Linked DNA regions of Homo sapiens. The main gene of each other region encodes a partner of the protein of the gene in region 3 in a complex. Each region holds a gene or a part of one and is shown on either strand. Other genes may lie near its edges. The genes, in order: RBL1, CDC6 and CCNA2. A codon is read from its position in the direction of its gene.

Region 1 (3,654 bases), on a different chromosome or scaffold from region 3:
AATAGGGTCTCACTCTGTCACCTAGACTGAAGTGCAGTGGTGCAATCACGGCTCACTGCAACCACAACCTCCCAGATTCAAACGATCCTCCAACCTCAACCTCCCAAGTAGCTGGGACCACAGGCTCACACCACTACGTCTGGCTGATTTTTGTATTTTTTGTAGAGACAGGGTTTCACCATGTTGCCCAGGCTGGTCTCCAACCTTCTGAGCTCAAGCAATCTGCCTGCCTTGGCCTTCCAAAGTGATGGGTTTACAGGTGTGGGCCACCGTGCCTGGCCTTGATTTCTTAAAATAAATGTATTTAAAGCCAACAAGTCTTAGTGATAATAAACATTCAATGCCACTAAAGCAGAGAGAACTTGAATTTGGAGGTCTTACTTTGATATACTGTTATGCTTAACAAATTTCAACAAATCAACAAATATGACAGCTTGTGATAAGCCAGGCACCATTAGTACTAGATATTTACCTATTATCAGTAAAACTTGAAAGGTCCAGGAGGCATTCTCCTTTTAATATCTGTGAACAAAAAATTATTTTGGGACACCATATAATTAAGCATATTAATACACACACAAACGTGAAATTTATCTAAATTTCCATATTGTTATAACACACACACAAAACAGAATTATTAAATATTTCTTTCAGACTAGGATAAACTATTTAGCATGCAAATAACTTTTTTTTTTAACTTTTTTTTTTTTTTGAGACAGGGTTTTGTTCTGTCACCAGGGCTGCAGTGCAGTGGTACAATCATGGCTCACTGCAGCCTCAGCGTGCCAAGTAGCTGGGACTACAGTTGTGCACCACCATGCCCAACTAATTTTTGTATTGTTTGTAGAGACAAGGTTTTGCCATGTTGCTCAGGTTCGTCTGGAACTCTTGGGCTCAAGCAATCCACCTGCCTTGGCCTCCCAAAGTGTTGGGATTACAGGCGTGAGCCACCGCGCCCAGTCCCTGGGATCCTTTAAAAAAAGTTTACTTTGCTAGAGATGTTTAGCATACAGACAATGGGCCATAATATAGATATCTGAGGAACACAAGACTGAATACAAAAATTTGTATAAAAGAAGAAGAAACCAGTAAGGGAAGAATTTATGCTTAAAGAAAAATCTCATAATATTTGAAAAGTGGGATCCATAATCCAAACCCCTCCTTTTACCAAAGAGAAATCTTGAGGCTTAACTACATTTAATGGCTCGACGTTGGGGAAATAAGAAATTGAAACCCAAAGGAACAAGCCAATTCATAAATGTAGAAATAGCTAAGTTAATTACCAAGGAGACAATGTCCAGAATGCACACAGATAGCCTACAAGTGGCTACAAAACTATCATGGATTTTCTGCTCGATTTACATGGAATTAAAACTGTGGTTGTTATACATCATCCTACTTTTAGTCAACAGTCAGCAGTTATTCAAATTGTGGCAGTAAATTAGTCAGCTTATTCTGACCTCCTGTTTTTCCTAATTATTTGTCAGCCCTACTCTGATGTTCTATTCTTTACAATTCTTTATCAGTACCTCCTACGGTTGCCTCTGACAGTACATTTACCCAACAGTACATATAGTTGGTCACATTTTTCAACAGCTCTGTTTCTCACATCACACAAGATCATAAGGAAATTCTGAATCACAGTAGAGGCTAAAGCCTGGGAATCCTGACCCTAAGTTCTATAATGCTGAGAACTTGCTTAAAACATTTTTTTCTTTTCACATTACTGGTGATCTGTAAACATCTCAGTCATCTAATTATAAGTACAGTACCTTCCTGTCAAAGAGTTTTGAAATATATGGCTTAAAGTAGTGCTCCTTTATTCCTTTTGCTTCTACGAGAAGTCCATCATGCAGTTCACACAGTACAGCAATGATGCAGGGTGGCTCTTCAGAAGCCGTAAAGTCAGCAGTATGAAAATCAGATGGTAAACCTAGTTTGACAGTGTAGGAAGGGCAGAGGGAAAAAAAAATAGTCAACTTTTAAAAATCTTTTTCCAAAAACTGATAATCAGTTTTCAAAAATAAATAAAAGGTCTTACCTTTAAATGATGGATTTAGCAAGTCTTGTCTATTTGGGCACATAATCGCATTGGCAAAAATCAGATCCAAGCAGCATAGAAGTAAATGATAAGAGTTTACTAAGTCATCCCCAATCATCCGAAAATTACCTTTATAAGGGAAAAAAAAAAAAAAAAGACACAAAAACCAGAAACCTCTCATGTCAAATAGCACCAAGTTCCCAGAGTAGAAATGTAAGACCACTGAAAGTGTCATCTTACCCTTAGTATAAACAAAAAGTGTCCAACAGAAATTAAACAGATCCTTAACACTGCAAGGAATCCTCCTAAAAAGGGAAAAAAATTACTTTTTGTCTGACTAGCTCGCTAAATATCATGTAAACTGAAATAGTAAATGTAAATATCAAATAGATCAAATTACACATGAAATTCCATTCATGAAGAAAAGTAATCTATTATTTATGAAATGGACTTAAGTAAGCCTTTCCAACCTGCATAAAATAATCAGAACATAGGGCTGGGTGTGGTGGCTCATGCCTGTAATCCCAGCACTCTGGGAGGCCGAGGTGGGTAGATCACCTGAGGTTAGGAGTTCGAGACCACCTTGGCCAACACGGTGAGACCTGGTCTCTACTAAAAATACAAAAAATGAGCCAGACGGGGTGGTGCACACCTGTGATCCCAGCTACTCAGGAGGCTAAGGTAGGAGAATTGCTTGAACCTGGGAGACAGAGGTTGCAGTGAGCCGAGATCAGGACACTGCACTCCAGCCTGGGCAACAGAATGAGACTCCTCAAAAAAAAAAAAAAAAAAAAAAAAACAACAACAGAAAGAAAAATAAGTAAAAGTATTATCCTGAATTTCCAAATATGGATAATTGTACATGGATTTAAAAAGAAAATAATTAAGTTCTTTGCAGGAATACTTTTCATAAAAAACAGACTTTCAAAAAAGTATATTCTCTTAGTTTGTATCATAATCTTTATGTCAATTATATAAGGATTAAGGGCTCACCTCTGCTTCCGGCTTCGTGGTAACTTTGGTGGTTCTTCATATGGATTTTGAAATATATCTAAAAAAATTGGCTCATATTTTTTGAATATTACAGTAGACACCTCAAAATTTCTCTCTAGCCTTTCTATACGTTCACGAAATTCTTGTGGTAGATTTGACATGTCCATCCATTTCTTCATTTTACTAAAAAATTGTATTAAACTAAAAAAAAAAAGGAGGAGAAAAAAGGCACCTTTAAAATTCATTTAAATAATGGATTGAAAGGAAATATTCTATTCATGACTAAGACTCTTTATTAAAAAGCCAGATTTCCCAGGCAACATAGTTAAGACCCCATCTCTACAAAAATTTAAAAAATTAGCTGGGTGTGGTGGCATGTGCCTGTAGCCCCAGGTACTTGGGAGGCTGAGGTGGGAGAATTGCTTGAGCCCAGGATGTCGAGACTGCAGTTAGCCTCAATCATGTACTCCAGCCCGGGTGACAAAGCAAGACACTGTCTTACATGAACAAAGAACAAACACCATCCCTCAAGCCTAAATTTAATTAAAAAAAAAAAGTCCTCACTATGAAATCACTTTCGTTCCCAGGATCACCAGGGGAATACAGGTTATTAATTAGTG
Region 2 (3,654 bases), on a different chromosome or scaffold from region 3:
GACCTGATTAAGTCGATCTTGCAAAATAGTGACTATCTGATTTCTGGTATAAGGTGGGAAGTTCAACAGCTGTGGCTTACATTTTTCTCTAGCTTGAAGCCTAGGTAGAATTCTATCTGTGAGATCCAGGGTATTAGCAATACCTAAGGAGGAGATCAACAACATTGATCATTGGTCAAATTATCCTAAAGGGAAAACTAAATCTTCTGAAAGCTAAATAAATCTCCAGTTATAGAATCTAGCATTCTAATTGTTGCTTGCCACTTGTCTCCTACCCCATCCCAATAGATAAGATGTATCTATTAGGTAAGATGTACATAGTCATTTAACTTTCTTATTTTGACACGGCAGAAAGCTGGTTTAAGATAAAATAGCTGATAAATAAGCTGAATATATATTCTTAAAAAATACTTTAGAACCACCATGTAACATTAACAATTGAGCACTAACCAATCAGCACCAAGTGAGAATTGCTTAGCCATGGCCATTCAAATAGCGTGTACAATACATCCTGGCCTTTGCTGTCCAGTTGATCCATCTCGTCCAATACCAACACACTATAAAAAGAGAAACAGTTAGTATCCATATTCACCTTCTTAACCCTCTAATGTTTGATATAGGCTGACTTCAGGTCACTTTCCTAAAGCTGAGACCAGTTTAAAGATCATAATCTAACCTATCTCTAGTTACTGCTACAAGGATACCCCACATCATCTATAAGTAATCCAATTTAAAATTAGGTGTATCTTCCTTCTCTTCTTTCCCTTTAAGTTTATGTAACTATCCTTCAGAGAGAAAATATACAAAATGTACTTTTTATGGGCAACAGACCTTGCAGATTTTCACAGAGCAACATGAAGCAGAACAATACTTACATCATGGGGCCCTTCTCTGCAGTCATATGTTTTTCCAATTTCCTCATCATGTCCTTCCCAGCTGGCCTGGATACCTCTTCCTGACAAATCTCCTGAGCAATAGCTGGGAATACAGCCTGGGCAGTCCTCAAGGACATGCAATTCAGCATGATAGTTTTAAAGCCTTTCAGTTCCTTCTGGAAAAAAAAATGCAAATATGGGAGTTATTTTGGCCTCAGAAAATAAAGATCTGATAGAGCCTAAAATGTCTTTGAAGAGCTAACAGCACGTAAGGAAGCTCTACTTTCATTTGGAAAGATTTAAACAATGAAATTACAAATGTTTTATTTTGAAGAAACCCTCAATCTTCTAAACTTCTACTCTTTCTTTTCTTTCTTTCTTTTTTTTTTCTTTGAGACGGAGTCTCACTCTGTTGCCCAGGCTGAAATGCAATGCCACAATCTCAACTCATTGCAACCTCTGCCTCCCGGGTTGAAGTGATTCTCCTGCCTCAGCCTCCCAAGTAGCTGGGATTACAAGGATGCACCACCACACCCAGCTAATTTTTATATTTTTAGTAGAGATGGGGTTTCGCCACATTGGCCAGGCTGGTCTTGAACTCCTGACCTCAGGTGATCCACCTGCCTCAGCCTCCCAAAGTGTTGGAATTACAGGTGTGAGCCACCGCACCAGGCCTACTCTTTCTTAACTCTTTTTTTTTTTGAGACGGAGTCTTGCTCTGTCGCCCATGCTGGAGTGCAGTGGCGCGATCTCGGCTCACTGCAAGCTCCACCTGTGGGTTCACGCCATTCTCCTGCCTCAGCCTCCCGAGTAGCTGGAACTACAGGCACTCGCCACCACGCCTGGCTAATTTTTTTTGTATTTTTAGTAGAGACGGGGTTTCACTGTGTTAGTCAGGATGGTCTCAATCTCCTAACCTCATGATCCGCCCGCCTCGGCCTCCCAAAGTGCTGGGATTATAGGCGTGAGCCACCATGCCCAGCCTTCTTTTTCTTTTGAGACAGAGTCTCACTCTGTCACCCAGGCTGGAGTACAGTAGCGCGATCTCAGCTCACTGCAACCTCTGCTTCCCGAGTTCAAGTGATCCTCCTGCCTCAGCCTCCCGAGTAGCTGGGATTATAGGCACCTGCCACCATGCCCGGCTAATTTTTTTTTGTATTATTAGTAGAGACAGGGTTTCACCATGTTGACCAGGGTGGTCTCAAACTCCTGACCTTAGGTGATCCACCCACCTCAGCCTCCCAAAGTGCTGGGATTACAGGTGTGAGCCACCGTGCCTAGCCCTCTTTCTTAACTAAGTGCCAGCCAGGCACAGTGGCTTACACCTGTAATCCCAGCACTTTGGGAGGCTGAAGCAGGCAGATTACTTGAGCTCAGGAGTTCAGGACAAGTCTGGGCAACATGGTGAAACCCTGTCTCTACAAAAAATTAGCTGGGTGTAGTGGTGAGTGCCAGTATTCCCAGCTATCCAGGAGGCCGAGGTGGGAGGATCACCTGAGCCCAAGAGGTCAAGGCTGCAGTGAGCTGAGATCACAACACTGCACTCCAGCCTGGACAACAGAGACCCTGTTTCAAAAACAAAACAGGCCAGGTGCGGTGGCTCACACCTGTAATCCCAACACTTTGGGAGGCCAACAAGGGCGGACCATGAGGTGAGGAGATCGAGACCATCCTGGCTAACACAGTGACACCCCGTCTCTACTAAAAATACAAAAAACATTAGCTGGGCATGGTGGCGGGCGCCTGTAGTCCCAGCTACTCGGGAGGCTGAGGCAGGAGAATGGCGTGAACCTGGGAGGCAGAGCTTGCAGTGAGCCGAGATCGCGCCACTGCACTACAGCCTAGGCGACAGAGCGAGACTCCGTCTCAAAAAACAAAACAAAACAAAACAAAACAAACAAACAAACAAAAACACCCAAGTATCATTTTACCAAGAGTATCATAATTCAGACTCTCAATGTACCTTGAGGTCTTGCAGAATCCGGCTTAAGCAGGCAGTTTTTCCAGTTCCAGGAGCACCAGAAAGGTAAAGGCTTCCAGCTTTTTTCCCACAGATGTGTTCCCTCAAGAAATTCCTGATGACATCCATCTCCCTTTCCCTGGCAGGCAGCCGATCTGGGACAGCTGTGTTCAGGACCAGCTTTGCTTGCTGGTAGCAAGTGCCTGTGCCAGACATAAAAGGTCAATTAGACACAACAGAAGGTGAATGAGAAGACCCAGTGGGTGGTTTCATTTGGAGTCATCAGCCTTGGTTACAATGGCTGCACTAACAGTTGCCATGTAAGAACAAACCTTCTTGCTTGAATAGTCTCACACATGCAGATTCTTTCTTCAGTGGACATCTCTGCTCAGAATTTGTTGTGATCTCTTGACTTTTTCTAACTGAAGAAAGTATTTTGTTTTGGTGAACTTTGGCTAGTTCTCTTTTGCTAGGAGACTTAATTGTCAGCTGATTGTCAAATACCAATCTTCGTCCCTTAAGTGTATGTGAGTGAGGGGGACCATTCTCTTTCTTGCCTTGCTTTGGTGGAGAACAAGGAGGTAAATGGGGAGTGTTGCATAGGTTGTCATCGCCTGAAACACAATAAAATAAAAATGTAGTCACTCATAGCATTGGATAGTAAAAGGATGTGCAAGACCTCTGCCTCTTCCAGAAAGAGGTGAATTTCTACCTTAGTCAGAACCACCAAAATAAAATGCCTTCTCACTTAGCAGCAAATATTGGTCACCAGATGGCACCACTGATCTTACTACAGTAGTCCCTTCATCCACCGTTCTA
Region 3 (2,624 bases):
TAGGTAGTAAGCTTAGTTGTAACTTGGATTGAAAGGTGAGCTTTTTTAAAAGCATCTGACCTGTTGCTGGCAGGGAAAGTAGTAGAAAATGGATCGAGGGATGGAATAATGGCCTGAGAAAACTAGTAGTTGGAAAAGTTAAAGATTAGTACTGGAATTTAACATAAGCTTAATGCCAACTATTTACTGTGTTTGGTGTGTTACTAAAAGCAAAACTCAGGGGTTCTCTATTCCCTTCTCTGTAGCCTGAATCATTAATACGAAAGACTGGATATACCCTGGAAAGTCTTAAGCCTTGTCTCATGGACCTTCACCAGACCTACCTCAAAGCACCACAGCATGCACAACAGTCAATAAGAGAAAAGTACAAAAATTCAAAGTAAGAATTAACTTGGATATTGAAGCTTACTTTTCTAGATTATGGTTCAGAGATCTTTGACATTTTAACCTTATTCATGAATCTGCCATAGCCTCCTTGAGAAGCTGTTCTCTAAATTGGTTATGTGTTTGAAGAAGGTTGTAGTTCATGCTTTCTGCCCTGGGTCTGGGGGAGAAGAGAGAAGGAAGGGGGCATGCATGTGTGTTTCAGGGACCAGACAGTGTTTCTAAAACCATCAAGTCGGTCAGACAGAAATAGCATTTTTTAGTTCCCAATACATGAGTACAAACATTATTCCATGATCTCCTTTACCCAGTGAGTGTTTACTAAAAATGCTTTTTTTTTCCCTACTTACAGGTATCATGGTGTTTCTCTCCTCAACCCACCAGAGACACTAAATCTGTAACAATGAAAGACTGCCTTTGTTTTCTAAGATGTAAATCACTCAAAGTATATGGTGTACAGTTTTTAACTTAGGTTTTAATTTTACAATCATTTCTGAATACAGAAGTTGTGGCCAAGTACAAATTATGGTATCTATTACTTTTTAAATGGTTTTAATTTGTATATCTTTTGTATATGTATCTGTCTTAGATATTTGGCTAATTTTAAGTGGTTTTGTTAAAGTATTAATGATGCCAGCTGTCAGGATAATAAATTGATTTGGAAAACTTTGCAAGTCAAATTTAACTTCTTCAGGATTTTGCTTAGTAAAGAAGTTTACTTGGTTTACTATATAATGGGAAGTGAAAAGCCTTCCTCTAAAATTAAAGTAGGTTTAGGAAAACAGACCCTCAAATTCTGACATTCATTTTCCTAAGCAACTGGATCAATTTGCTGACTTGGGCATAATCTAATCTAAGCATATCTGAATACAGTATTCAGAGATAGATACAGTAGAGATTCCCCAGACTTTTTCGCTCTTTGTAAAACCTGTTTGTTTAGGTTTTGCGAGGTAAACTCAACAGAGGTTGGGAGTGGAAGAGGGTGGGAAGCTTATATGCAAATTAACAGACGAGAAATGCTCCAGAAGGTTTATTATTTTAAAGCACATTAAAAACAAAAAACTATTTTTAAAATCCTGCTAGATTTTATAATGGATTTGTGAATAAAAAATACCCAGGGTTCTCAGAATGGAATAAATATCCCTTTTAATAGTTATATATACAGATATACAACTGTTAGCTTTAATTGGCAGCTCTCTTCTTTTTTCTTCTTTTCACTGGCTTTTTACTTGGTGCTTTTTCTTGTTTTGCACTGGTGGTCTGTGTTCTGTGAATAAAGCAAAGTAAGAATTTACTAAGAGTATGTTAAGTTTTGGATTATTGAAATAAGAGGCATTTCTTAGTTTTCCAGTAGGATCTAAAATGTGTCAGCTATGAGTAAGACTGGCATCCAAGAAGTTTATATTATAGATTTAGGTCCTAATTTTTATAAATCACAAGGTAAAAAAATCACAGAACAGATGGATCTCTAATGAAAAAGGGATGTCTTTTTGTTTATAGTCATGTGGCAAGATGAGAGTAAAACCAGAGAGCAAACCTCTATAAGTGTTGAGTATATGTATACATTTGAAATAAACCAGAAATTTGTTACCTTATTTTCTTTGGATTCTTGTCTGGTTCCAAAATGATCATTTCTTCTTCTTCACTATCTGAGAGTATTATGGGAGCATCTTTGTTTTTTTATTAATTTAAAAAAAAAAAAAAAAGTTAAGCAATCTCTTGCAAAATTTATTTCTACATGAATTTATTTCTATCAGACGTTCTAAACTCTTATTTCTGGGGCTGGGCGTGGTGGCTCACACTTTTAATACCCACATTTTGGTAGGCTGAGGCAGGTGGATTACCTGAGGTCAGGAACTCGAGTCCAGTCTGGCCAACATGGTGAAACCCCAGCTCTATTAAAAATAATAGAAAAATTAGCCAGGCGTGGTGGCATGTGCTTGTAGGCCCAGCTACTCGAGGCTGAGGCATGAGAATCGCTTGAACCCATGGAGGTGGAGGTTGCAGTGCCACTGCACTCCAGTCTGGGTGACAGAGCAAGACTCCATCCCAAAAAATAAAAATAAAACTCTAGGTGGAGGCTTAATCTTTTCTTTAAATCAGCTTCTTAGAGCACTCTAGAACTCATCTGTAACATTTGTTTCTTTAAACTCTTATTTCCTACAGGTGCTTGAATGGTGTGACAATTTGGTACATGTCATAATAGAAAAGCTAGGGGGAAATGTATATAGCATCTTTTG

What was found.
Region 1: the proteins of CCNA2 (region 3) and RBL1 are in contact, whole or in part, in a crystal structure (PDB 1H28), measured with the Homo sapiens proteins. Residues at the interface, in NP_001228.2 of Homo sapiens: Met210, Ile213, Leu214, Asp216, Trp217, Glu220, Glu224, Arg250, Gly251, Lys252, Leu253, Gln254, Tyr280, Ile281, Thr282, Asp283, Thr285, Tyr286; in NP_002886.2 of Homo sapiens: Gly654, Ser655, Ala656, Lys657, Arg658, Arg659, Leu660, Phe661, Gly662, Glu663.
Region 2: the proteins of CCNA2 (region 3) and CDC6 are in contact, whole or in part, in a crystal structure (PDB 2CCH), measured with the Homo sapiens proteins. Residues at the interface, in NP_001228.2 of Homo sapiens: Met210, Ile213, Leu214, Trp217, Glu220, Val221, Glu224, Tyr225, Arg250, Leu253, Gln254, Glu277, Tyr280, Ile281, Thr282, Asp283, Thr285; in NP_001245.1 of Homo sapiens: His89 (codon at 3,363), Thr90 (codon at 3,360), Leu91 (codon at 3,357), Lys92 (codon at 3,354), Gly93 (codon at 3,351), Arg94 (codon at 3,348), Arg95 (codon at 3,345), Leu96 (codon at 3,342), Val97 (codon at 3,339), Phe98 (codon at 3,336), Asp99 (codon at 3,333), Asn100 (codon at 3,330).

The regions. Positions count from the first base shown.
Region 1 is NC_000020.11:37,064,952-37,068,605, forward strand, and holds part of RBL1 (retinoblastoma-like protein 1), read right to left. Parts: intron 3,236-3,654; coding exon 3,035-3,235; intron 2,347-3,034; coding exon 2,282-2,346; intron 2,171-2,281; coding exon 2,042-2,170; intron 1,934-2,041; coding exon 1,773-1,933; intron 523-1,772; coding exon 473-522; intron 1-472. UniProt on the Homo sapiens protein: Key regulator of entry into cell division. Directly involved in heterochromatin formation by maintaining overall chromatin structure and, in particular, that of constitutive heterochromatin by stabilizing histone methylation.
Region 2 is NC_000017.11:40,290,853-40,294,506, reverse strand, and holds part of CDC6 (cell division control protein 6 homolog), read right to left. Parts: intron 3,450-3,654; coding exon 3,168-3,449; intron 3,039-3,167; coding exon 2,839-3,038; intron 1,052-2,838; coding exon 876-1,051; intron 558-875; coding exon 451-557; intron 144-450; coding exon 4-143; intron 1-3. UniProt on the Homo sapiens protein: Involved in the initiation of DNA replication. Also participates in checkpoint controls that ensure DNA replication is completed before mitosis is initiated.
Region 3 is NC_000004.12:121,815,799-121,818,422, reverse strand, and holds the end of CCNA2 (cyclin-A2), read left to right. Parts: intron 1-245; coding exon 246-379; intron 380-736; coding exon 737-785; 3' UTR 786-1,566; coding exon of another isoform or gene 1,567-1,651; 3' UTR 1,652-1,975; downstream 1,976-2,624. Other genes in the region: EXOSC9 (exosome complex component RRP45), read right to left, coding at 1,567-1,651, 1,976-2,054, 2,229-2,279. UniProt on the Homo sapiens protein: Cyclin which controls both the G1/S and the G2/M transition phases of the cell cycle. Functions through the formation of specific serine/threonine protein kinase holoenzyme complexes with the cyclin-dependent protein kinases CDK1 or CDK2.